Homo sapiens: one gene and its partners. The protein of the gene in region 1 interacts with the protein of each later gene in a pairwise test. Each region holds a gene or a part of one and is shown on either strand. Other genes may lie near its edges.

Evidence for each region.
Region 2: the proteins of ZCCHC17 (region 1) and SHTN1 interact in binary tests that used the Homo sapiens proteins (3 or more experiments, as listed by UniProt).
Region 3: the proteins of ZCCHC17 (region 1) and SDCBP2 interact in binary tests that used the Homo sapiens proteins (3 or more experiments, as listed by UniProt).
Region 4: the proteins of ZCCHC17 (region 1) and ZNF16 interact in binary tests that used the Homo sapiens proteins (3 or more experiments, as listed by UniProt).

What each region holds. Positions count from the first base shown.
Region 1 is NC_000001.11:31,356,019-31,363,046, forward strand, and holds part of ZCCHC17 (zinc finger CCHC domain-containing protein 17), read left to right. Parts: intron 1-3,569; exon of another isoform or gene 3,570-4,779; coding exon of another isoform or gene 4,780-4,812; intron 4,813-7,028.
Region 2 is NC_000010.11:116,939,179-116,946,206, forward strand, and holds part of SHTN1 (shootin-1), read right to left. Parts: intron 5,841-7,028; coding exon 5,746-5,840; intron 1,435-5,745; coding exon 1,288-1,434; intron 1-1,287. UniProt on the Homo sapiens protein: Involved in the generation of internal asymmetric signals required for neuronal polarization and neurite outgrowth.
Region 3 is NC_000020.11:1,319,137-1,326,164, reverse strand, and holds part of SDCBP2 (syntenin-2), read left to right. Parts: intron 1-295; exon of another isoform or gene 296-335; intron 336-382; exon of another isoform or gene 383-822; intron 823-1,795; exon of another isoform or gene 1,796-2,299; intron 2,300-4,964; exon of another isoform or gene 4,965-5,729; 5' UTR 5,730-5,748; coding exon 5,749-5,802; intron 5,803-6,505; coding exon 6,506-6,575; intron 6,576-7,028.
Region 4 is NC_000008.11:144,947,872-144,954,702, reverse strand, and holds the start of ZNF16 (zinc finger protein 16), read left to right. Parts: upstream 1-3,822; 5' UTR 3,823-3,906; intron 3,907-4,079; exon of another isoform or gene 4,080-4,301; intron 4,302-6,677; exon of another isoform or gene 6,678-6,763; intron 6,764-6,831. UniProt on the Homo sapiens protein: Acts as a transcriptional activator. Promotes cell proliferation by facilitating the cell cycle phase transition from the S to G2/M phase.

The DNA of each region.
Region 1 (7,028 bases):
AGCAGTCCATGCTCCTGAGTTGGACAGTGGAGAGTAGGAATGCCTGGCGTGTGGAAGGGCATATATGATAGTAACTCATGTAAGTTCAGTTAATGCATTTCTAACAGTTAAAAAAGTAACTCATGAAATAAAGATCATATGGTACCTACACTCAAGCGGCTAATCATATAAGGAGAAAGATAAGCAGCCAAGCTATGTATGGTGGTAAAGGATAGAAACACATTCCAAGGAGGTTATTTGATTTTATGGACATCCAAGGACAGGAAATGCAGTGTAGTCAGGCCACCTAGGACTAGAACTGGAAAGTCTCATTAGGTTCTCATCTCCGTTTCTTCACAAGTCTGTTTCATTACCTCACTTTTTATAGTCTAGTGGAAGACAATGCAAAGCCTCTAAGAAGACAGAAAATGGTAGACCTGTTGAGGAACCACCAGAAATAGCCCAGGATAAGGAAAGGATGTCACCTTTTACAAATAATGCCTGGTACTTAATAGGAATACATGCACTAACTACCTGTGAATAGATAGACTTCATAATCTGTGCTCTCTGTCATTCCTTGGGTGTCTTCACTCAGTGAAACCTGCCCTCAGATTGCAGAGTAATAGGTATTGACTCCTGCTGCTGGCAGTGGGCGATAATGAAAGGAGCAGGGGCAGGAGTAAGAATAACAGATCTTCCTAACCTTGAGCCTTCCCACGTCTTTTCATTAAAACATACATGTATTGAATGCCTTTTCCCACAAGTCCAGGATGCATTGATTTAGTTGTGTGCATCTGGCACCATGAACAATTTTTGTCCCAGTGACTGAATGTTATAAATAATTTTTGTTGGGCATAATTAGAATAAAAGGAAACTGTGTGTTGCAATTGGAAATGGGCTATGAAGTGGTTGGTAAAATAGGAATGGAGGTTTTGTAGTGAATCCCTGGATAATCTTCTGATGAACTTGTGGTCTGTGCTTTACTGGCCTCTTTCATTAATCATATGCCATCGTAGGTCTTTCTGAATCGGTGTTATGTTATGAAGAAGTAAGTGCCTTGGGGACCAAGCTGCCCACTGATTATAGTAAACTTTAGATATGTTTGATTCAGAATATAATTTTCTTTTGATTTTACCATATGATTTTCTGCTGTACCATATATAGAAGAACAAGAAATAGGAATGTCATTCTTTGGCTGCAGTGTTGGCTCTGTCCTGCTGTCCAGAGAACTTCTTCTGGTGCCTATATAGAGAAAGGTTGCCAGTCCTGAGCCCACTCAGGGACACATTCTCTGCCTATTCAGATACAGCAGAGAGCGTTGCCCAGTGTTGCCTACTCAGAAGCCTTCAGTGGTTCGCTTTCTTCTATGACATAAAGTCTAAGTTCCTTTAAGACTCTTCACAATCTGCCCAGCTTCCTAGCATCATTTCCCACCAGTCTCTTCCCACACACTATACTCCAGCTTCATTCATTAATAGAGCTTCTACTGTGTGCTAAGCTCTGTTCTGGCCATTGCAGGTAAAGTAGTGAACAAAACAGGTAAAATCCCTATCTTCATGGCACTTAGATTCTAATGGATGGGGTCGATTGACACAGATAATAAACTGGTAAACAAATACAAAATAGTAAAAATAATGTATCAAGTAGTGATAAGTGCTATAGAGAAAAATTAATTTGATTAAGGGAGATAGGGAGTCCTAGAATGAGGATGTGGGGAGCAGGTGACTTTCATTTTAGATAGGATGGTAAGGCCAGGCCTTTCTTTTTTTTTTTTTGAGACGGAGTTTCACTCTTGTTGCCCAGGCTGGAGTGCAATGGTGCGATCTCAGCTCACTGCAACCTCTGCCTCCTGGGTTCAAGCAATTCTTATGCCTCAGCCTCCCGAGTAGCTGGGATTACAGGCATGCACCACCACGCCCAGCTGATTTTCTATTTTTAGTAGAGACGGGTTTCTCCATGTTGTTCAGGCTGGTCTTGAACTCCCGACCTCGGGTGATCCACACACCTCGGCCTCCCAAAATGCTGGGATTACAGGCGTGAGCCACCGCGCCTGGCCTGGGCCAGGCCTTTCTCATAAAGTGTTGTTTGAGTGGATATCAGAAGGAAGTGAGGACACAAGCTATTCAGGTAAGTGGAGAGAGAGCATTTCAGCAAATGTAACAGCTGATGTTGGGAAAGAGTGTGGCATGATTAAAGAACATTAAGGACGCCAGTGTGGCTACAGTGAAATGAATGAAAAGAGAGTGGTAGGAGAGGAAGTTAGATCAGAAGGAACCCAGATCACTGGGGCCTTATAGGTGATTGGGAGGATTTCATCTTTCACTTGAGTGAGATGGATGTTATTAGAGGTTTTGAGCAGAGGAATGACATGATCTGACTTCCTTTTAAGAGAATTATTCTGGCTGCTATGTAGAAACTTAGATGGTCAGAAAGCAAGAGTAGAAGCAGTGAGTTGATAGATAATCCAGATGATGGTGGCTTGGACTAGAATGACAGTGGCAAAAATGATGAGAAAGGAGTTGAAGTGTGTATATATTTTGAAGATATAAGAGCAGGTGAGGATGGCATCAAAATTTTTGGACTGTGTAACTGGAAGATTTGAGTTAAGAGAAGGAATGCAGGAGAAGTAAGTGTGGGAGTAGGGAGCAGTCAGGAGTTTAGTTTGAGTTGCTGTCTACACAGATGGAAAGATAGCTGGGAGAGTCTAGGTTTGGGAGGGGGCGGGGCATAGAAATTGAGTTGCCTATCAGATATTCAAGTAGACCATAGAGTAGACAGTGGATATATAGTTTGGAGTTCAAGGGAGAGGCCCAGGTAAGATATATAAATTTGGGAGTCATCTACATATAGATGGTATTTATGTTCATGAGATCACCTGCAGAGTAAATATAGGGAAGAGACTGAGCCCCAGAGTGCTCAACACTTAGAGGTTATGGAGATGAGGATGAACTAACAAAGAAGACAGGAAAGGAACAGCCAAGGAAGTTTGTAGAAAAGTAAGAGAATGTAAAATGTGGTAGAAATACCATGAATGTGTTCTAGGTAAGATGGTCTGTATCCATCTTGACTGACCAAGTAAATAAGACCCAATAATTGACCACTAGATTTGGCCACGTGGAGGTTACTGGTAATTTTGTTTGTTTGTTTTTGTAGAGACAGGGTCTCACTATGTTTTCCAGGCTGGTCTTGAACTCCTAGGCTCAAGAGATCCACCTGCCTTTAGAAAATTAAGTACTGGCTGGGTGTGGTGGCTCATGCCTGTAATCCCAGCACTTTGGGAGGATGAGGCAGGTGGATCACTTGAGGTCAGGAGTTTGAGACCAGCCTGGCTAATATGGTGAAACCCCGACTCTAGTTAAAAAAAAATACAAAACTTAGCTGGGTGTGGTGGCATGCGCCTGTAGTCCCAGCTACTTGGGACTACAAGCGATTCAAGGAGAATTGCCTGAACCCAGGAGCCAGATGCTCCAGTGAGCCGAGATCACACCACTGCACTCCAGCCTGAGTGACAAAGCAAGACTCCATCCTAAAAATAAGTAAATAAATAAAATAGAAAATTAAGTACTCAATAAATGTTCACTGCTATATTCTCTTTTTTCAGTTTTTGCTTTTATTTTTGTTTTTCTGTCACACTGGGCTGCTGCTATCCTGTTTCAGAACTATAGTGAAAATGGGTAGACTAGCTGCTCTAACAAGGGATATGTGCTTTTCCTAGAGAGCAGTCTTTGAGATGTTTGACCAGTGGCTTCCTTCCAGTGCCCCCTTGACCTGCGCCATGGGCTCACACTCCTATGCCATTTAAAAACTGTTTTATGTTTAATTTTCTATTTCCATCTGATACTTGAATCCATGTCATTTTTTTTTAACCCATTATCTTCTGTTTCCCTTCTCACTTGAATGAAGTTGAGAGAGCAGAAGCTTGGTTCATCTTCTGGCTCTCAGTCTTCCCCCACCCCAACTCCCAACTTTGCTTTTGAACTACAACCTTTTTTTTTTTTTTGAGACGGAGTTTCCATCTTGTTGCCCAGGCTGGAGTGCAATGGCACAATCTTGGCTGACCCCAACCTCTGCCTCCGGGTTCAAGCAATTCTCCTGCCTCAGCCTCCCGAGTAGCTGGGATTACAGGCATGTGCCACCACGCCCGGCTAATTTTGTTTTTGTGTGTGCGTGTTTTGTTTTGTTTTGTTTTGAGACAGAGTTTCGCTCTTGTTGCCCAGGCTGGAGTGCAGTGGCGCGATCTTGGCTCACCAAAACCTCCGCCTCCCACGCTCAAGCGATTCTCCTGCCTCAGCCTCCCGAGTAGCTGGGATTACAGGCATGTGCCACCACGCCCAGCTAATTTTGTATTTTTAGTAGAGATGGGGTTTCTTCATGTTGGTCAGGCTAGTCTCGACCTCCTGACCTCAGGTGATCCACCCACCTTGGCCTCCCAAAGTGCTGGGATCACAGGCGTGAGCCACCGCAACCAGGCGAACTACAACTTCGGATGTGATTGTTCTTTTGTTCTGTAGCTCAAGGCTAGACACGTAGGGAAAATGACGCCATTTGCTGGAGGATTGGATTGTCTTTGTTCAGGCTGCAAAACAGCTTTTGCATCAAAGTTGAGGTCTAGGAGAAGGCCACCTCCTTGAGCCCTTCTTGCTAGCTAGAGTCCATGTTCCAGCATGCCAGGACTCTCCAGTGATTTGTTTTTATCTTCCCTCCTCCTGAGCCTTCATCTTTGAGAGAGAACAAAGTGGAAATAGTGCCAAACTCTGTGTTATAAAGTATAGTGGTTTTGCCGCTTTAGCCTTGGTCGACTCACTTTACATTTCTGAGTTGCAGTTTTTCCATCTGTAAAATGGGAATAATAACTCATGAAGTTTGACTCTACAGACTATTATTGTAAGATAAGGATGCAAAAAGCTTGATAAACTAAAGCACTGTTTAGGTGTAAGGCAGTATTATTACTCTCCTCACTTCTTTATCCAGGCTGGACCAGGCTTGCAGGGAACTGGTGCCAGACTCTGTATTTTCATTTTTACTTTCCCAGGATATTCACCTATATAAGGGGCAGAACCCAGTGAGGCTCCTGACCCCATAATATCTTGTGATGGACTTCCATGGTCTTGCCATCCAGGAAGGTTCAGCAACATAGCTAAACTATTGATTTGCCAACTCTCAGCTCCTCCCAGCCATGGTTGTTATAGCTCGGTAATGTGGGTCTGAGAAGCTTTGTTGCCTTCTCTCTACTCCATTGGAGATGCCAAGGAAGAATTGTTATTTCATCTTCTCTTAAAACTTTGACTTGTCTCCTGTAGATGCTTGGCCAGGCTGTCAGAACATCCTGGGAGTTAATGAGAGAAAAATACATATAGCTCCCACTAAGTGCCTATAATGTGTCAGGCACTATAGTTAGTGCTTATCTTGTTTAAACCTCATAGCATCCTTTGAAATAGGTACTTATTATTTCCAGTTTACTGAAAAGAAAACTGAGGTTCAAAAAAGTTAAATCCCTTGTTCTAAGTCACATAGTGAGTTAAGTTGCAGAGCTAGAATTTGAACTTAATTCTATCTTATTCCAAAATTTGTTGTTCTAATGACCATACCATGAGGCCTCCTGTTACCATACAGAAAGAGGGGCCATGTGCTACATAGGAAAACTCAGGAGATTTCCATTCATATGATCTACATGAAGATCCCAACTGCGCCTATGCGATCTGGGACAAGTGGCTTTCAACTTGTCCAAGCCTTAGATACTATCTCATTAACTTGTCACCATAGGTGTTTTTTTTGGGGAGAGGGGGAGATTATTTATTTATTTATTTATTTATTTATTTATTTATTTATTTTGAGACAGGGTCTTGCTCAGTTGCCCAGCCTGGAGTGCAGTGGCAGGATTATGGCTCACTGCAACTTCCAGCTCTTGGGCTCAAGCGATCCTCCCACCTCAGCTTCCTGAGTAGCTGGGACTACAGGCCCGCGTAACCACACCCGGCCAATTTTTGTATTTTTAGTAGAGACAGGGTTTCACCATGTTGGCCAGGATGGTCTCGATCTCCTGACCTCATGATCCACCTGCCTTGGCCTCCCAGAGTGCTGGGATTACAGGCATGAGCCACCGCGCCCAGCCAGTAGATGTTATTCTTATCTCCAGTTTACATTTGAAGGGAACAGGCCTCAGTGAGTTCAGATGACTTGCCCACGGATGCAGAATAGTAAATGGCAGAGCCAGAACTCAGGTCCAGGTCTATCTAACACCTGCTTCAGTGTTCTTTCCACCATTTTTCACAGCCAGCTTCTAAGACCTGGTGTATCATTCAGCTAGATTTATAGCTCTGAGGCTGCTGGTTGGAAGCTGGCATCCTTTTCTGCTCTCTTTCTCCTCCCATACTTTCTCCCTCTTCTTAGAAACCTTACAGAGGCAATATAGGTATTTGAAATTCAAAGAAGAGATTTATGCCGTGCTTAAAATCTGCTCATACTGCCCCATTAGACACCTGGGAATCTGCCTCTCGTCTTTTGTATGGGTTTGTACTGTTACTTTGGTAGCATGATGTGGTGGGTATAGTTTTGGGAATGTTCTTTCTCAGCTCTTTTCTTTATGAGTATAATCTTGTGAGGTGGCTGTAAAGTTAGAGATGATGAATATTCAAGGGTAGCAAGTACAGGCTTATTATTTGATGGCAGTTATTTCCCCTGGCACCAGGATCTAATAGAAACCAGAATAGCAGTCAGGAGTTCTAAATCTTTTACTCCTATTCTTTGACCTTGGATATGTGAGTCACTGTTTCTAGATAGACTGGCTAGTCTTTAGGGGCGCCTTTCAGCTTTAATGTCCTGCACTTTAAAAAATGAAAGTAATAAGATACTTGTTTAAAAAAAATCAAATTAGACAGAAGTATTTGAAGGAAAAAGTGAAAGACCCATATCCTTTCCCCCATTCAGTTCATTCCCAATGTGTAACACTTATTACCAGTTTGATGTATCCTTTTCAGTGTTCTCTGTGTATACTAAATATACACAAGTATGTGTAACATACACAGTTTATATCATGTGCATATATATAT
Region 2 (7,028 bases), on another chromosome or scaffold:
CTGTGTTGTTGGAGTTCCAGGTGCCACTGGAGTATGAAGAAACACTCCTGCAGCTAGTTTGGTGTCTGCCCAAATGGCCACCCAGTTTTGTGCTTGAATCCCAGGGCCCTGGTGGTGTAGGCACCCAAGGCAATCTCCTGGTCTGTGGGTTGCAAAGATGGTGGGAAAAGCGTAGTATCTGGGCTGGAGAGCACCATTCCTCACAGCACAGTCTCTCGTGGCTTCCCTTGGCTAGGAGAGGGAGTTCTCCAATCCCCTGCACTTCCCGGGTGAGGCAACACCCCACCTTGCTTCAGCTCACCCTTCATGGGCTGCACTCACTGTCCAACCAGTTCCAGTGAGATGAGCCGGGTACCCAATGCAGAAATCACCCGCCTTCTGCGTTGATCCCGCTCGGAGCTGCAGACCGGAGCTGTTCGTATTCGGCCATCTTACCAGCCACCATATATCAACATTTCTTATTGAGGCAAAACAAATCAACTCAACCTCACCACCAAGTTTGTAAAAACTTCAGAACTTCCAAGGATTAAATGTCAATACTGTTGCCACAGAGGCTTTGACAGGTGGTAACAAGTAGCAGCTAACAGCCTTTCCTTCCCAAATGAGGTACATTATAAGTAGTATAAACATTGATGTAATTTTTCTTAAGTGGTCTCTTTAATTTGGAAGTCTTTGTTCCACTTCTTTGCTTCTCCTCTCACCTACCACAATGACTATCCTTTCTTCTTGGCACACAGAGGTAGGCTGTGTCAGCTGGAATAGCTCCACTCATCAAATTGAAATAATCACTTAGGAAGTCTTTAAACATACACATTTGTGCAAGTTTACAAAATCAAAAATTTTCTCTAAGCAAACAATTACTACTAATACGGACTGTCATTTTCTTTGAATAAAACCTATGCCCTCCAACAAGTGCTCTGAGTTGAATACAGCCTCTTAGTGTGTGCAGTCTCCAAAAAATATAACATTTCCAAAAATTGAATTTCCAGACTTTGCCTTATCCAAGCTGTTTTTAAGTTATACCTCTTTCCCTTGCTTCTTCCGACCCTTTGGACAGTTTAAAGATTATTATAAAGTCTATAATAGCGTATTACAAATTTCAGTTTCACAACATTAAGTTCATTTAGTTATTTTTTTCTAAAAGGTGGTTGAAAGCACTTAGTAACTAAGGCAAAATATGAAACAGTAAATGACTGGACTGACTGCACTGGCTCCCTTCATCTTAAATATATGTGTGTATGCATGTATGTGTGTGTGTACCTAAGATTCCAGAAGAAAATGGGTTACCTTTTGTTGATGCTGAATTCTCTCTTCTTCAAGTTGCTGGGTGAGTTTTGCATTTTCGTCTAAAGCTTTCAAAAGCTGCTGATCAGGGATGGAGCTCTGCAGCAGAAGGTGGCTTTGTCTCTTTAGCTTGTTTTGCTCAATGAACATCTGCAAAAGTTTGTTACAAGAATGTATATATCAATCAATCTCACATACCTCCTCAACTGTAACTTCAGCAAAAGAAAAGTACATGGAATTTTTATTAAATCATTAAAGGCAAATTCTGACTTCTATAAGTTTTAGAAGTAGTGATTGCTATGATTTCATTCCTTTTATATAATCTTTAATACCTTTACTCCTGCCCCAACAAGATATTTATACAATAAGCTGGTCTTACTCTTCAGTTTTTAATATTTTATTATTGCTTTAAGATACATTAATATTAATAGTAGTAGCTAATATTTCTCAAGAATTTACCTTGTGTACTCCACTAAATATTTTATATGGATTATTTTAATCCTTACATCAATCCTATTAAAGTGCTTCTACTATGAATAGGTAACATTTACTAAACACTATGTGATAGATATGGTGGGAATCATTTTACATTCATTATATCATATAATCCTTAAAACAACACTATCAAGTAGACACTACTATCATCTAATTTTACTAATAAGGTAACTGAGGCTCAAAGAAGTTAAGCAACTTTCCCAAGAACACACGTAAGTGACAAGACCAGGACTTAAACCCATATCTGATTTACATGCCCAAGCTCTTAACCATCTGGCTAAGTTCCTCTACTATTTGCTAGATCTAATGTTTTGTTTTAAACTAATTAGTTTCTCCCTAGTGATAAAAGTAGTTAACAGTAGAAGGGTAAAGGGGAGAAGGGAGACAGTATATTTTATTGAGCACTGTATTAAGCAATTTATATGTTATTCATCAAATCCTCACAACTTTACATGATTGAAAATAATATTGATTTCTATTTACCTGTTATTTCTTTTCCTTAACACTCTACCCAATTTGGCCAGTGAGTGATTCCAAGTATGAAATGTTTTTGTAAACTCTGAAATCTGGCCTACCAATTTTATAATAGAGCTTCACCTTTTCAGATTTTTAACAGCATTTTAAAATTTACATTATAACTTAACTGAAAGCTCTGAACTGCAAAATGATTTGCTAAAGCCCTCATATTAGTTTGTTCAACAACTTCACCCATCATGTAACAGAAAAAGTCAGCAAATAAAACTCAGGACAAAAATATTTTCCATCAACCTCCATGTGGCAAGACCACAGCTTTAATGATTTATACAATCCTTAAGCTCTTGATCAGTATCGACTTCCACATCAAAGTCAAGTCATGAATACAGTATACTAAAACACTAACATTTTCTTCCCAGTATGTCTTCCTATGAAAGGGAAAAAAAGGTCAGAAGCTTTCCTTCTTTGCCTAGGGATTTATGAAAAGCCTACAAAACTACGACAGGGTTCTTCTGCAGAATTAAAACACATTACAAAGTCAAACAGGTAAATAAACAATTGCATATACATGAAACCCACATTCTTCTTCCATTTGTGTGAGAGTGAGAGGTATAGAGACTGCAGTGAGGAAGAGTATGTGCATGTACACTTGGCTGGAGAAGGGTGAGATGCAGCTTCAGCATTCTAAGAAAGAGTAATCAATATTTCATCACAGTATCTTAAACTTCAGACCAGTGATTTAATTAAAATGAATTGTTTTGGGTGACCATTATGATTACAGTAATTTTTTTTTTTTTTTGAGATGGAGTCTCGCTCTGGCACCCAGGCTGGAGTGCAGTGGCACAATCTCGGCTCACTGCAACCTCTGCCTCTCAGGTTCAAGTGATTCTCGTGCCTCAGCCTCCCAAGTAGCTGGGACTACAGGTGCCTGCCACCATGCCTGGCTAATCTGTGTATTTTTAGTAGAGATGGGGTTTCACTATGTTGGCCAGGTTGGTCTTGAACTCCTGGCCTCAATTGATCCCCCCGCCTCGGCCTCCCAAAGTGCTTGGATTACAGACGTGAGCCACCATGCCTGGTCAAAAAATTTAATTATGTTGAAGAAATTTAAAATTTTAATATAGTTATGAAGACAACTGATAGTTTTCTTGTTGAGGGGGATTAAGTTTTTGGTTTTGTTTTTTAAATGAACTAGCGGGAGTTAAGAATGGGGGGTAACTTTCAATTTTTATTTTATACATTTAGAAAATATTTGTATCTTTGTGCAAGGCACACATACTCCTTTTTAATTAAAAATATAAAGTAAATTAACCTTAAAAATTGATTTCTAAGGCTCTAGACTATAAGCTCCAAGAGGGTAGGGCTCACATTTGCTTTCTTCACCACTGGATTCCCAATGTCAGCACAGTGTCTGGCACAGTAAGATGTTTGCTGCATGCCCTAAGTGGTAAGTAAAATGCAAAAGAATGGGACTCTGTTGTTAAACTAAGTTATGTGTCTTTGTGCAGTACTTACCTGTTGAAAACCTGAGAATGCATAAACTTTGTAAAAAGGAAAATATACTAGTTCCAACGTGGTGCTATTTTTTAAAAAAAAGTTTTCTTCTCACTATTGTGTAGATTGAATCTAGATATTGTAAAATTGTTGAGTGCCACTGCAAATATTTATGCTGCCAATAACGTAAGTACCATTGCTCTTGCTTTCTTTCTCTCCTCAAACTTCTACCTTCTCATTCTGGGTTAACATGTCAGCATTATTGTTTCCACCAACCACTAAGACTGAAGACCAGGTGAACAGCAGAGTCAATCATTCATTTTTGTCTTCTTACTGCAACCTTGCTTCTTCCATCTGTCTTCTCTGCTACCACATGGCCTTCAAGTTTTTCTTTGAGCTGCTTTGTATTCTAACATCATTGTGCAAACAACAGATGGAAAACTGAACATGTCTTGAAATGAGACCTGCTATTCAGGTCAAAATCAGCCGACCTTTCCAGTTTTGCAATAAAGGCATCTTCACATTATCCCTGCTTCCCCTCCCCCTCCACTGTTTATTTCACTGCATTATTTATATTGCTCCAACGTTTTCCAGAGAGCTCTGACACACTTCAATTCTTTTTTCTTTCTTCCAAGTAATAAGAGAAAAATATTTACTCACCTTTCATTAAACTCTCTAAATAAAACGAATCATAATATTTCAAATCAGATCTACTTGGCCTAAACCTTCGGTAGAGTTCACTGCTAGCACAGCTATGCTCAAGCACAGAAAGACCCCCACAAAACCATCATTGGATTTTCAAATGTCATTCCCCTAATGCCATGCTTTGTCTTCCTTCTATGCCTTGGATACCTCTACCTAGGACTGTTTTACATTTCCTGAGCTATCTTCCTTCAACCTACAGTATGCACACAAATTCAAACTACACCCACAGGATGGAGATCTCATTGCAGACCAGCTTTTGAGTTTAGCCCATTGGTGAACTCCTCATCCCCCTGGATGAGCCCCAGGGCCATGGAAGACCCAACGACTGCATGTCAACAGGTAAGCCGGAACAAGAGATTCAAAGCTGATCTCTAACATAAGAGGAAGATCAGTAGGCTGGTGAAACGCTGAGATAATGAATGTACTACATGGCAGTGTTCCACAGCCAGTGGAAGAACTTCCTGGCATAATGACAGCACTGCACAATGGCTGAAGAGAAATACTGATACCATAATACTGTTATCTGAGATGGTATATGGAGATACATCCCAGATTTTAAGCCTATTTGAAATGTACAGGCATCTTGTACCCAAGTTGGACTTTCCATCACAAGTCATGGGTTGTCTCCAAATGCAATTCCTTTCCCTTACATAGCATTTTATAGTTTATACAACACTTTTTTTAAATTTTGCCATTAAAATCCACTTGGTCAGGTCTGTATTATTGTCCATTTTACAGATGGTAAAAGTGAAGCCCTGAGAGGCTGAAGAATTGCTCAGAGGTCATACACTACTACAACTAGTAACTGACATGGCCAAAATTTGAGCCCAGATCTTTTGACAATGAACTTGATACTATTCTATATCTGCCTCCCTAAACCAGCAGATCCTTAATTCAAACTGGTAAGTTCTTATTCAACCTCAAGAATTTGTCTGATATGTCGTCTGCAAGGTCCCTTACAAAACAAAAATTCAAAAGGTTTTTACGGCTGGGCACGGTGGCTCACTTTGGGAGCACTTTGGGAGGCCAAGGCGAGCAGATCACGAGATAAGGAGATCAAGACCATCCTGGTCAACATGGTGAAACCCCATCTCTAATAAAAATACAAAAATTAGCTGGGCACGGTGGCGTGTGCCTGTAATCCCAGCTACTCGGGGGGCTGAGGCATGAGAATCGCTTGAATCAGGGAGTCGGAGGTTGCAGTGAGCCGAGATTGCGCCACTGCACTCCAGCCTGGTGACAGAGCGAGACTCTGTCTCAAGAAAAAAAATAAGATTTTTACAAGATACCCACCTCTTGTGCAAATGACTCTGCTTTCTTTCGAAGGTCCTTCTCCAGCTCCAGGTTTACTTGCATCTCCTCATACTCTTCTACAGCTAACATGGACACTTAAGAAGATAAAGGAAAAAAAAAACCCAGACAATAAGTCACACAAATAATCAGGAATATGGATGAAAAACAGTGTTGAAAAGATTTTTCATACCAGCATACAGGTACCCTCATGCATTCCTGGTTGGCATACAAACTGATAAAACCTTTTTGGAGAGCAACTTGGCAACGTGAATCAAAAATCTAAAACTATTCATACACTTTGAATAATCCCACTTCCAGGAATGCATATGCTAAGATTGTAACACATGAGCATATACAGACATTTGGTTGCAAGGATGCTCTCTACCTCATTGCTGATAAAAGTGAAATGACATAATACTCTAACACAGAAGAATGAGTAAATTGTAGTACAAGAAATATTATTCTGCCATCAAAATTATATTGTAGAAGCATACTTAGTAAATGGAAAGACATCTGTGATGTATTTTTAAAAATAGATTGCAAAAATTAGTGCAAAGTGAATTCATTTTTGTTCTTTAAAAGCCACAGATAAAGCACATCAACAGCCATTTCACAGAATAGAAAATATACAAAAGGCCAATAAACATGTGGAAAGATGCTCATCTTCATTAGGAATCAAGGAAATGCAGAGTAAAAACACTTCTTACACCCATCCAAGAGGCAACTGGTAAAAATTTTAAAGCATGGTTTTATTAAATTTGGTATGCAGTGAAAAAAAACTGAAGATAAAATTTGACATTTGGCATGTGTCTTAAAGCAACTCTTGGACATGTGCACCAGATGACATGTCTAACATTTTTTATAACAGCATGACTCAGAATAGCAGAAATATGGAAACAGCCCAAAGTCTACCAATAGGATACTACTTAAAATAATTTTAGTGTAGTCATCTAATGGAATAGTATATAGCAGTGAAAACAAACATACCACAGCTATGCCTGTCCACATGCATGAATCTCACAAACACAAAAAGTTGCAGAAGGTTACAGGAAAAATGATTCCATTTACATAGAGTTCAAAAATATGCAAAATTAAACAATGCTGTTTAGAGATATAGACATATTTGGCAAAACTACAAATAAAAGAAAGGAAATAATAAAAATTCAAGGGAGGGGTAAGAGTAGAGAGGGATGTTCATGGGTTTGTAAGGTACCAGCAAGTATAAAGAGATTCCTTTTACTGGTATTTCCTCTGTCTTCCATATATATATAAATATATATATA
Region 3 (7,028 bases), on another chromosome or scaffold:
CCCTGTCCCTGGAATAGCACACTCTCTTCCCACTTGAACATCCATCCTACACGGCCCAGTCAGGGTCTTCTTCCTTCCTCCAGGAGACCTTCCTGATTGCCCTAGCCTTCCTCCTATACGCCACATCCAACTGCCTGAGTCCCTCATAACAGGCTTTCGGTCTGATTTTGCTGTGGGAATTGATTTGCCCGGCCAAGCCAAGAACCCTTCCCTAGGCAGCAGAAGCCCAGTCACTCAGTCACTGGTGGGTGGGACGCGGGGTGAATCTGCGTAGGGTGGGGCGGGGCATTTTTAGCTCAACACTGGGTCAGAAGTCACGGCCAGACAAGAAACGGGTGAGAAACGGGGGAGGAAGGGTGACGTCACAATTGGTAGGAAATACCTTGGGACTTGACGCTTTCGAAACCAAAGGGAGAGCAAAAGCAGCCGGGAGCGCGCGGGCCGACCTGGTTCTCCTCCCTTCCCACGGCTGCCTTAGTACAGAATCTTATAAGTCCTCCTCCTTCAGAGGCTACAAATGGTGTTCCGAGGCCAGGGGAGTTTAAAGCTCGATTTCACCCGCGCAGCCTCCAATCCGGTAAAGAGGGGCCGCGGAGCCCGACCAAGTCTTCCTATGCCTTACTCTGCTGCTTTACCTGATCTATTTTTGTGGATGCCGGCGCCAGCTACGGGCGCCCGGAGAAAGCACGAGGCCGGGTGGACTCTGGTAACGCAAGCGGCAAGGAGGCCGCCATGTTCCACTCTGCAGCCGCTAGGGATCGTGGGAGTCACCCCTAACCGCGCCCGGGCCTGGGTGGGCGAAACGCATGCGCTCTAGAAGTTGCTGAGTCGCTTGGCGGTGTTTCTGCGCAGGCGCCGTAGCCCATAGCAACCGCCGTAACCTGTAGCAACCGGAAGATGTCGCTTCCGGCTGGTTTGGGGCTAAGAAAGGGGTTATAGTCATTTCGAGATCATAGAACGATGTGACAGATAGGAAACTGAGGCTGGGTTGGAGGCAGGCCCTAGGGACCGTTGCGTTGGACCTCGCTCCTGTGGCGCGGTGGATGGAGTTTGTGGCTTGTGGCTCCTATTTCCCAAAGCAGGAAATTGAGACAGAGGGAAGGCACAGGTTCGTCCTGAGGCTGCAGCCCAGGTGATGGTTCCCCGGGTAAAAAATCAATATGATGCCCTTTGTTTATAAGGAGAAGGCAGGGACATGAAAGTAATTTCTAATAAAAGAATATGCATTTCACTTTGTAAAAGCTGAGGCTGGCTTACACCCGATCACGCTTGTACCCAACTTAGGAATCAGCTTAGGTTTACTAGAAGACAATATTCAGCTGAATTTTGCCAACAGTTTATATCTGACATCTTGAGTCAAAGGCTAAATATATTTATATAAAAGCGCGGAGTCACTGTGACAGCTACACATGTACACAGACGTGAGCATGCTGTTCGGGTGACTCACCCGTGGGGAGCAGGGTGGGCAGCGATTTTCCAGAATGGTGAGCAAAGTGTAACTCCCCACAACCAACCTGATATATGCATTTCCAGACAGTCTAGTGTGTACTAAAACTAGGGAAAAATTCATTGTGATTGTATGTACAACCAATTATAACGGATTTTTGGCTTACTTGAAAGTTTGGCAGGATATCTGAAAGTTGTGCGGGACAGGACCATTTGTTATGGTGACTGTAATGGACTGTCCCATCCATTACAGGAGTTTCATATCCCTGCCCCCCCCACCCCCGACAGGGATATGACTGTCCCCTCAGTCTCGTGACACCCAAAAATGCCCACATAAATTTCCAATCTGTTCCTTGGAAAACCACTGATTTATTCAGTCAAATAATTTTTGCTAGCATATGTGTGCTGGGCAGTGCCGTGGCGGGGAAGGATCGTGTGTGAACGGGACAGAGCTCCTGCCCTTATGAGTGAGGTCCAGTGTAAGAAAATACCCAGATATTAATCACATAATTTGATAAATAGCTTGGCAACAGGGGCAGTACAGGTCAGGGGTGGAATACATGGGAAGACCCAGCCAGGCAGCCTGGGTATCATGCAGTCTGGAAAAGCCAAGCAGAGAAGTAGCATCTGAACTGAGCCTCGAAGGAGCATCACACCAAGGAGGATGATGTGCACAGCAGAGGGACCAGCACGTCTGGCACACAGTGGACACTCAAATGTTTTGAATGATTGAACGAAACACAGCATGTTCGCTGGCAGGGAACCATTCCCCATTATATTGTGAGCTGCTACAAGGCAGGGGATACAGTATGCCTTTCCTATCCCCAGGTTTCACATCCATGGATCCAACCAACTGTAGACAGAAAATATTTAAAAATAAAAATTAAAAAAAACAACAAAAATTCAAATAAAAATAAAATATAACTTTGTTTAGCATTTACATTGCATTAGGTATTGTAAGTAATCTAGAGATGATTTAAAGTATACAGAAGAATGTGCATAAGTTATATGCAAATATTATGCCACTTTATGTAAGGGACATAAGCAGCTGTGGATGTTGGTATCCGAGGGATGGGGAGTGAGGGGCATTGTCCTGGAACCTACCCCAAGGAACGACTGTACCTGTTTTCTCACTTCCCCGCATCCCAGCACTAAGATGGGATCCAGAGAAGGTGGCAGTGGTGAAAGGATCTCAGACACAGAAAAAGGGTTATGTGATCTGGCCCGGGAGTGATTTCCAGGAAATGGATCTCTGACTCCCTGCTCTCCCAGGGGACAGCTGACAAAAATATAAGTGCTCTACTGGTTAAATGTTAGGAAAATCAGGGCAGGAGTGGCTGCTTATTTTCGCATCTGCTGTTCATGCGTGGTCCTGGTGGCAGGTCATGTTTTGGCAGATGATAGCTGCTCAGGACTGTCCCAAGATTAAAAATCTCATAGTGTGTGTACACAGTGGGGAAGGCTATAAGCAAAGGGGTCTCTTCCCCCAGGTGGTCTAAAGGAAGTCAGAGCCAGACTCCCTCCCCTCCCAGGAAATTCCTGTCCTGTTGGGATGGTCATTTCTACCCCAAAGGCCAGGCTAGGGCAGGGTCTGGAACTGGCTGCCTCCAGGAACCAAGCAGGCAACGTAAATCAGTGAAGGGCTGATGGGTACTTGCGGAAACAGGAAAGCACGTACAGCCCCATTTGCGAGGTAGGCTGTGACTCAGCCGGGTGAGTGTTGCCATGCACTATTCCAGCTCTTGCCTTGCCAAATGTTTATATTTTTTTCAATCCAAGTAAGAAGTGACGCATTTTGTGTTTCCAGATTTTTAAATATTGGCACTAATTCAGATTTTAAAAACAAAAGGCTGGGCATAGTGGCTCAGGCCTGTAATCCCAACACTTTGGGGGACCGAAGCGGGCAAATTGCTTGAGCCCAGGAGTTCAAGACCAGCCTGGGCAACATGCTGAAACCCTGTCTCTACAAAAAATACAAAAATTAACCAGGTGTGGCGGCATGCACCTATGTCCCAGCTACTTGGGAAGCTGAGGTGGGAGGATGGCTTCAGCCCAGGAGTTGGAGATTGCAGTGAGCCAAGATCGCGCCACTGTACTCCAGCTTTGGCAACAGAGTGAGACTCTGTCTCAAAATAATAATAATAATAAAACAGGACTGTGAGAGGCACATTTGGGACTTCTGGTCCTTGTTTCATCCAGGAAGGTGGGTGTTCTTAGGATACTAGAGCTTTACTTTACAAGGAGAAAAGTGGAAGCCCAGGTAGAATGTGTTGCTTCTGGCAATATTATTGAGCTAGCCTCCATGCTAGGGGTTAGAGGCTTCACAGCAAATGAGAAGCCCCTGTTCCTGCCATCTTGGAACTCCTAAGGAGGTAGACAGACAAGTAAAGAGGCAACCACAAGAGTGGTGAATACTCAACAGGAGTAGGACATGGAGCAGGGGCTAGGGGGAGCACAAATCAAAGCAGGCTTCCTGTAAGAGGAGCTCCCTGATCTGAGACTTGAAAATTATTAGGAGTTGGCCAAGCAAGGAGCAGGGAGAGGAGGGGTATTCCAGATAGAAGGAATAACACATGCAAAAGAGACAGGAGGGAATCACATGCAAGGACGTGGAAGTAGCTCATTGTGGCTGGAGTTGAAAGTAGCAGCTGAAAGGACGTAAGGCAAGAAATGAAGCTGGAGAGGTAGACTAGGGTTGCAAACAAATATCTATTGGGACTTGGCACCAGTGAGTACAATGGTCTGGGTGTAACAGCCAATAGAGGATGGTGGACTGGGTCACCCTGGAGTCTGCTGCTACTCAATTGTAGCTACTCTGCTATAGCCTAGGGTTGCCAAAGCTTCCTGTTTTTTGGGAGCAGTGGGAAATTCGATTATTAAATCCAGTACCTTGAGCTTTGTGTTTAAGCTGCTAATCTGAACGTTTACAGTACTCCACAAGGTCAAATAAAATCTATTTCCATCTGGCCCTGGGCCCACCAGTTCCAATCTCTGGTGGAATCGTGAAGGCCCTGTGAGCCTCTTTAAGGAGAGTACATTCCCAAGGCAGGGAAGCCACTGGCGGGCTTTCAGCCAGGGCATGACATCCCAAGTGTGTACACAAAGGGCCTGGTGGCTGCTGTCTGGAGAGCAGCAGGACGGCAGGAGGGGAGGCAGCAGTGTGTTTGGAGGGTGTTATGGCACCTGGAGAGGGCCAGGGAGATGATGGGGACCTGCACAACACGGGATGTGGGAGAGATGGGATTTGATGACAGACAAGAAGGGATAGTGGGGGCGGGGCCAAGGATGACACAGGGGTCAAGGCAGCAGGTGCAGAGGGAGGAGAAGGAGCAGTGATGGATGAGTATGTCCTCGGCGTGCCTGTGGTCACTCAGGGAGGTGCCCAGCGGATCTGATCCTGGGAAGCCTGGAGTCACATCGCTCAGGCACAGGACCCTCAGTTTCCTGTGCCACCAGCGGGCATTCCTTTATCATGTGTACCCATCACATGTGAGTTCAGTGGGGTGAATAGGACACACCTTTACCCCTCAGAACTGCAGTCAGGACAAGTGGCGAGTTCAAGCAAGAGGCTGGCCCGGTGCTGTCCCGGAGCTGTCCCGGAGGGCAGGGTCCTGGGTGGGAGGGGCAGTGACCGTATTGCCTGGGAGCCAGGGGAGGCGTGTCCCACAGGAACCGAGGGTGACAAGGAGGTTGGGCAGGGGCTCCAGTTGGAGTGGACTGCCTCAGCGAAGCCTGGAGGTGTGACAGAGCCAGTGGTTAGTGAGTAAAGGGAAGGAACCCAGAAAGGCAGACTGCTCCTTCCCCACATTTCGTCAGGAAGGGAATAAAACATTTCTTAAGAGGTCATCATTCCTTTCACTTTCTCGGGGCACCTTGCTCAGAGGTCCTGCTGATTCTCCCTGGGACAATGAGAAGGTGTTTAGTAAATAAGTGCTCATGGTGCCTCTCCACCCCCCATTCCCTCCTCCCTCTGGAGCAGTGCCCTGTTGAGTGTCTAAGTTCTGCTACAGTTTGTGTGAGAGTCTTTATAAATTTCCTACTGGTCTTACTTCATTGTGGCCAAGATTAAAAGTTGACAGTGAGGCTGGAGATGAGTGGAATACAGTAGAGTTCAAATATCGACAGGGGATTAGGGGTGGAGTTCGGGGAGGCATTCTAAGTGCCCTGCTGCCTTTCTGTTTGAATATTAAGTTCCAACCCGCTTGCTGTTGCGGATGTCTGTGCCTCCTTTCAAGGGGGCATCAGCTGCATCCTTATCCTTCCCCACCCTCTGCACTCTGCAGGGTGTTCTGAGAATCAGCCATGTCATCCCTGTACCCATCTCTAGAGGACCTAAAAGTGGACCAAGCCATTCAGGTAAGTCGCCAGGCCCCATTGGCCTGGATTCCCTGAAGGGGACCTTGGGGATTACCCTGGAAGGTGCTGGGTACTGGGGCCACTTGGAGATTCCCGTAGGCCTCAGGGCATGTAGGTGTCCACTGCAGGGCCTGCTGGGCAGAGAAGACATCCAGGGGGCAATGCCAATGGCGTTACAGCAAGAATAGAAAAGACCAAGCAGCGCACGCATGCCTCTCTCATGCCTGCTCTGTCCTGCCCAGGCCCAGCTCTCCCTCCCTCCAGGATGGGCGGGCTCCATGCTCTAAGGCAGGCTTTCAGAGGAAACAAGACTAGTGGGCATAGGCATTGGTCTGCTTAGCCCCCAGAAGCCCCCTTCCTCCTCCATCCCAGCACTCTGTGGTTCCAGTGGGTTTTGAGAAATGGAGACTTTTCAGCTGAGAACTTGATTGGGAGATGGGCCTTGATGTTCTGCCTGTTGCAGGCAGTAAATGGGTTGTGACATAGGGTGGGTCACAGTCCCCCAGAACTTCCTCCCAGGAAAAGACACATCTGCGGAGGCCACGTTTACGTGATCTTGAGCCCTGAGGGTTGGTGCACACTCCCCCCACACCCCGGGCCCACTCACACCCCTAATGCCCAGACCCTGGCCTCATGGAGCTCCAGGCTCTGGGGTTCCTGGGGTCCTGGCCACAGCTGACCAGTGCTCCCTGCTCCTCCCCAGGCCCAGGTCAGAGCCTCACCCAAGATGCCAGCCCTGCCAGTCCAGGCAACAGCCATTTCCCCACCACCAGGTGAGTGGGCTGGGATGAGGGGCTCCTGGGTGCCAAGTCCTTTCAGGGAAGAGATCATCAGGGAAGCTTGGCAATGCCAAAGGTATGGGAGGCTCCAGGGTTAAGGACTCAACATGGTGGGAAGAGAGGACCAGGCTTCCAGTTGCCACCCACCTCTTACTGCCTGGGTGACCTGGGCTGAGTCACCTCACCTCCCAGAGCCTGTGCCCATGCTGTTCCCCTCCCTCCTTGACTGCCTGGTGAACCCCTGTTTATCCTTCCAAACCCAGCTCAAGTTAGGGAAGCTATGGCTTCTCTGATGCCCCCAGCAAGGCTGCCTTGAGGATGTGATATCATTTGTGGGGCCTCTGTCTATATAAACGATTTGAGTCACCTCAAATCAGCATTTCAGCACCATTCTGGTGATCCAATCTCATGTGACCCCGGGAATGAAATACCACACTTGTCAGACTT
Region 4 (6,831 bases), on another chromosome or scaffold:
CAGGACTATGCTGAATCTCCTTAGGCACTCTCTAATTAGATGTCCTGGGTCCTCCCAATTCTTAGACCTTTTATACCTGTTTTTCTCCTTCTCTTATTCCATTTACTTTTTCAATTCATATAAAACCATATCCAGGCCATCACCAATAATTCTACATGATAAATGTTTCTTCTAATAACCCCACAATATCATCCCTTACCACAAAATCTTCCTTCAGCTTAATCTCTCCCATTCTAGGTTCCCACGCTGCCCCTAATCCCGCTCAAAGCAGCCCTGAAAAACATCACCCATTATCTCTCTATACCACCCCCAAAAATTTTCACCATCCCAACACTTTACCACTATTTCACTTTATTTTTCTTATTAATATAAGAAGACCAGAATGTCAGGCCTCTGAGCCCAAGCTAAGCTATCATATCCCCTGTGACCTGCACGTACACATCCAGATGGCTGGTTCCTGCCTTAACTGATGAGATTCCACCACAAAAGAAGTGAAAATGGCCTGTTCCTGCCTTAACTGATGACATTGTCTTGTGAAATTCCTTCTCCTGGCTCATCCTGGCTCAAAAGCTCCCCCACTGAGTACCTTGTGACCCCCACTCCTGCCCACCAGAGAACAACCCCCTTTGACTGTAATTTTCTTTTACCTACCCAAATCTTATAAAATGGCCCCACCCCTATCTCCCTTCACTGACTCTCATTTCAGACTCAGCCCACCTGCACCCAGGTGAAATAATGCTCACACAAAACCTGTTTGGTGGTCTCTTCACATGGATGCACATGAAACAAACTACACTATAAGGCCATAGTCACCAGAACAGCATGGTACTGCTATAAAAATAGGCACATAGACCAATGGAACAGAATAGAGAACCCAGAAATAAACTCAAATACTTACAGCCGACTAACCTTCAACAAAGCATACAAAAACATAAAGTGGGGAAAGAACACCCTATTCAACAAATAGCCCTGGGATAGTTGGCAAGCCACATGTAGGAGAATAATCCTGGATCCTCATCTTTCACGTTATAAAAATCAACTCAAGATGGATCAAGGACTTAAATCTATGACCTGAAAATATAAAAATTCTACAAGATAACATCAGAAAAACCCTTCTAGACATTGGCCTAGGCGAAGATTTCATGACCAAGAACCCAAAAGCAAATGCAACAAAAACAAAGATAAATAGGTGGGACTTAACTAAAGACCTTTTGCACAGCAAAAGGAAGAGTCAGCAAAGTAAACAGACAACCCACAGAGTGAGAGAAAATCTTCACAATCTATACATCCAACAAAGGACTAATATGCAGAATCTACAAGGAACTCAAACAAATTAGCACGAAAAAATAATCCCATCAAAAAGGGGGCTAACAGCCGGGCGTGGTGGCTCACTCCTGTAATCCCAGCACTTTGGGAGGCCGAGGCTGGTGGATCACCTGAAGTTGGGAGTTTGAGACCAGCCTGATCAACATGGAGAAACCCCATCTCTACTAAAAATACAAAATTAGCCCGGCATGGTGGCGCATGCCTGTAATCCCAACTACTCAGGAGGCTGAGGCAGGAGAATTGCTTGAACTCAGGAGGCAGAGGTTGCAGTGAGCCAAGATCACACCATTGCACTCCAACCTGGGCAACAAGAGTGAAACTCCATCTCAAAAAAAAAAAAAAAAAAAAGTGGGGGGTGCACTAAGGACATGAACAGACAATTCTCAAAACAAGATATACAAATGGCCAACAAACATGAAAAAATGCTCAACATCACTAATGATCAGGGAAATGCAAATCAAAACCACAAAACAATACCACCTTACTCCCACAAGAATGGCCATAATCAAAAATCAAAAAATAATAGATGTTGGCGTGGATGTGGTGAAAAGGGAATACTTCCACACTGCTTGTGGGAATGTAAACTAGTACAACCACTATGGAAAACAGTGTGGAGAATCCTTAAAGAACTAAAAGTAGAACTACCAAGAAATACCATTTCGTCCAGCAATCCCACTACTGGGTATCTACCCAGAGGAAAAGAAGTCATTATACGAAAAAGATACTTGTATATGCACGTTTATGGCAGCACAATTCACAACTGCAAAAATGTGGAAGCAGCCCAAATGCCCATCAATCAACGAGTGGATAAACAAACTGTAGCATATATATATTTATATATATATGTGTGTGTGTATATATGTGTGTATATATGTATATATCTATACATATATAGAGAGTAGTATTCCATCATACATATATATATGATGGAATACTACTCAGCCATAAAAAGGAGTGAATTAATGGCATTCACAGCAACCTGGATGGGATTGGAGACTATTATTCTCAGTGAAGTAACTCAGGAATGGAAAACCAAACATCGTATGTCCTCACTCGTGAGAGGTAGCTAAGCTATGAGGATGCAAATGCATAAGAAGGATACAATGGACTTTGGGGACTGGGACTCAGGGGGAAAGTGCAGGAAGGGCGTGAAGGATAAAAGACTACAAATTGGGTTCAAGGCATACCGCCCAGGTGACGGGTGCACCAAAATCTCACAAATCACCACTAAAGAACTTACTCATGTAACCAAACACCACCACCTATGGAAATAAAAATTTAAAAACCTATGGAAATAAAAAAATTAAAAATAAATAAAAAAATAAACATAAGTTCCAATTTCAGGCCATCTCTTTGTGAATGCATATGACTGTACACTTTCAGAAAAAGGTATGTCACATCTTGAATGCTTTGCTGCTTAGAAATTTCTTCTGCCAGATGCCCTAAATCATCTCTCTCAAGCTCAAAGTTCCACAGATCTCTAGGGTAGGGCCAAAATGTCACCAATCTCTTTGCTAAAGCATAGCAAGAGTGACCTTTACTCCAGCTTCCAATAAGTTCCTCATCTCCAACTGAGAGCACCTCAGCCTGAACTAAAAAAAAAAGGGGGGGGGGTTATCTAGACAGTGTTTCTTAAATTCCAATAGAGTTTGTCATGCATTTTTTATTATGTATTCCTGATTTTGATAGTTTAATCTGCCTGCAAAATGAACGTCAAAATATTTGTGAGGTTTTTTTTGGTTGTTGTTGTTTGTTTCTTTTTTTTGAGACAGGGTCTCACTCTCTCATCAGTGCAACATGTGATCCCGGCTCACTGCAGCCGCACATTCCCCGGCTCAAGCAATCCGCCCACCTCAGCCTCCTGAGTAGCTGGGACTACAGGCGCACACCATCACACCTGGCTAACTTTTGTATTTTTTGTAGAGATGGAGTCTCCCTATATTGCCCAGGCTGGTCTCAAACTCCTAGCCTCAAGCCATCCGCCCGCCTCGGCCTCCCAAGTGCTGGAATTACAGGCGTGGGCCACCGCACCCAGCCTTATTTGTATTCTTTATGTCCAAGTGTACAATTCATTTCCGTATTAGAAACGATCCATGCACAATCTCACGAAAACATGTTATCTACTGAAGGAATCTGAATTCTTCCATTTATCTATCTAATCACTTACTGATTGAATGATTCAGTTCTTCCAAAAAACGTATCCTTAGGTTTTTATCAAACTACCGTCTGTTCCGATTCTGGGGGCCTGTATATTAAAATCTCCCACTACACGAGTATATCTCATTATCTCTGCATTTCTATTAGTGTCCCCTTTTCTTCAGTTGCCGCCTTGTTCAGTGCACGGGTCAACTCTGAAAAAAAGGGGAACAGAAGGGTCTCTGGCCTCAGGGCTAGTGGGACCAGGTCTGGGGCTGAACCACAGAGTCGCCCCGGCCTCCCGCCATCTAGAGAGGCTACGCTGCCCCAGATAGAACGAGCGGCGGGCCGGAATTCGGGGCGGGACTTCCGGGGGTCAGCCGGCGTTGGCTGAGACGTCTTCGTGCCACGGTGCTGCCTCCTTTCCAAGCGCGACCCGTTGAGGTTAGTTCCGCGAAGCTCCACGCCTGGGACCCTGCGTCTGGTTGTCCCTGATGCCCCCGTGGTTGGGGGGCCCAGGGGCCTCTCAGGGCTCAGACGGGGCGGGCAGCGAGCTGGGGACCCCGGGCGGGGGCGGAGCCGCGCGGGGGGTTGTGGGAGCGCGGGGGGGGCGGGGCGGGGGCAGCTCGGCCTGGGCTGGAGGTCAGAGCCTCTGGGGGCTGCCTCCGGTAGGGGGTCTCCGGGGAGACCCCGGGGTAAGGTCGCCGCGAGGGGCCGAGCCAGGACTCCGCCCACAGGCTGGTGGCGTTCCCGCCTGTCGGTGCCACCATTCGAGCTCGGGCGGAGCGACGGGGTGAAGGGGTGGCCTGCCCTTCCACACCTGTGGGATATCTCATCAGGTGGGACGAGAGACTGAGAAAAGAAATAAGACAAAGTGTAGAGAAACAACAGTGGGCCCAGGAGACCGGCACTCGGCACACTAAGGACCTGCACCGGCACCGGTCTCTGAGTTCTCTTAGTTTTTATTGATTATTATTTTCATTATCTCAGCAAGAGGAATGCAGTAGGAGAGCAGGGTGATAATAGGGAGAAGGTCAGCAAAAAAAAGCATGTGAGCAAAAGAATCTGTGCCATAATTAAGTTTAAGGGGAGGTACTATGCCTGGATGGGCACGTAGGCCAGATTTGTTTCTCTCCACCCAAACATCTCAGTGGAGTAAAGAATAACAAGGCAGCATTGCTGCCAACATGTCTCACCTCTCACCATAGGGCAGTTTTTCTCCTGTCTCAGAATTGAACAAATGTACAATCGGGTTTTATACCGAGACATTCAGTTCCCAGGGGCAGGCAGGAGAGAGTGGCCTTCCTCTATCTCAACTGCAAGAGGCTTTTCTCTTTTACCAATCCACCTCAACACAGACCCTTTACGGGCGTTGGGCTGGGGGACGGTCAGGTCTTTCTCATCCCATGAGGCCATATTTCAGACTATCACATGGGGACAAATCTTGGACAATACCCGGCTTTCCAAGGCAGAAGTCCCTGTGGCTTATCGCAGAGCATTGTGCCCCTGGTTTATTGAGACTGGAGAATGGCGATGACTTTTACCAAGCATCTGCTTGTAAACATTTTGTTAACAAGGCACATCCTGCACAGCCCTAGATCCCTTAAACCTTGATTCCATACAACACATGTTTTTGTGAGCTCAAAGTTGTGGCAAAGTGGCTGGGGCAAAGTTACAAATTAACAGCATCTCAGCAAAGCAATTGTTCAAGGTACAGGTCAAAATGGAATTTCTTATGTCTTCCTTTTCTACACAGACACAGTAACAGTCTGATCTTTCTTTCTTTTCCCTACATGGGGCAGCAGTGCGATGGGGTGGTTCCCAGCGCATGGGAGACAAGGGTGGGTTCGTGGTTCCTGGTGTTCCATGAGAAGTCAGAGATGCACTGAGCAGAGCTGGGGGAGAAAGGGGGTTTCGCTCAGCCTCAGATGTCCTGCCTGGGAGGCCCAGTCAGTAGTGGAGTCGCTCTGCGTGTGGAGGAGGTACTCTGGGAAGGGAGGAGAGTTTGGGCCAGTTCTTCCCCAAGGGGGAAGGTGCTGAGGGATCGGCCAGGGCCCATCCTGTGGCTGCTTGCTATGGGAGGGTGGTGGCTGGCTCTTCCAGTTGTGTGACTCCTAAAGAGCAGGCTTAGCCTCTAGCCAGGAGACTCCACTTCCAAGCTTGTTCAGGCTGTTGGCCGAATCTGTTTTTCTTGAGGTTGGTCCTCAGAAGTGCTGGCTGCCAGCCTGAGTGATCCTTAGCTCTCCGAGGTCCTTCCATGTGGCCCTCAGATCTTTCTCAGGCTTTTAAGGGCTCATTTGATTAGATTGGGTCCACCAGGGTAATTCACGTCCATAACCTTAATTCCCTTTGCAAAGTCCTTTTTGGTATGTAGTGTAACATAAGCACAAGTTCCAGGGATTAGGATATGGACCTGGGTGAGAGGGGGCATTTATTCTGTGTCCTGGTAAGCAAGATCCCACACATAATGAAGTGAGAAAAATAAGGTGTGAAGCCATAGCATAGTTGGGTGTAATTTATCATTAAAAGGCAAACATATGTTTATATATTTGCTGTGTAAACCTAGATTAATCTGGAACGGTACACTAGAAACAAGGGAAACTGTGTGGATGTTTGGGGAATTTTTCACCATAAATCCTTTTTACCTTTTAAATTTTGAGGTGACTATGCCCCTATTCAGAAACAATGAGAATTTAAAGTATTTTTAAATAAAATGAACTAAATAAATATTGCAGATTATTACATCACCACTTGGATGGGGAGAGGTTTCCCTCGAGGAAACTGGGCATCTGCACTGTAAGGGCAGGCAGATGCAGTCACAGAGGGCCTTGTCACCCCCATCGCCCATGTCTCCTCCATTTCTGCTGCCACGTGGTAGGCACCTTAGTGCTGTACCTGCTTTGAATCTCATCTCCCACCATTCCTCTGAGCACCCTGCCAAGTTAATCTTGAGATATTAGTTTTGTCTCTCCTGACACAGAAATGTGGCCAGTGTTTCACCTTCATCTGGCAGCCAAGGCCCCTTATCATTGGTCCATAGTAACCATCCCTGTGAGCTCTGTTCATATCTCCTTGCCTTCTCCTTGATGGTGATCTGAGTCCAGGAGCACCACCCAGCCCTTCTTTCTTCCCCACATGGCCTATGGGTGACACGTACCATCACGTTGACTCCCTGCACCATCCTTCTGCCACCTTTCTTCACATCCCCTTTGCAGATCCCCTTGACCACACCCTCATTCTCAGCTGGTGCTCATGAAGGACAGAAGAGTCAATGTCAGTACAATGTGAGTGAAGGGCTGAGGTATGTCAGTGCTCCCAGTGGGCACCCGGGCAGGGTATGGTGCATTTACACAGTGAGGGGTGGGGGAA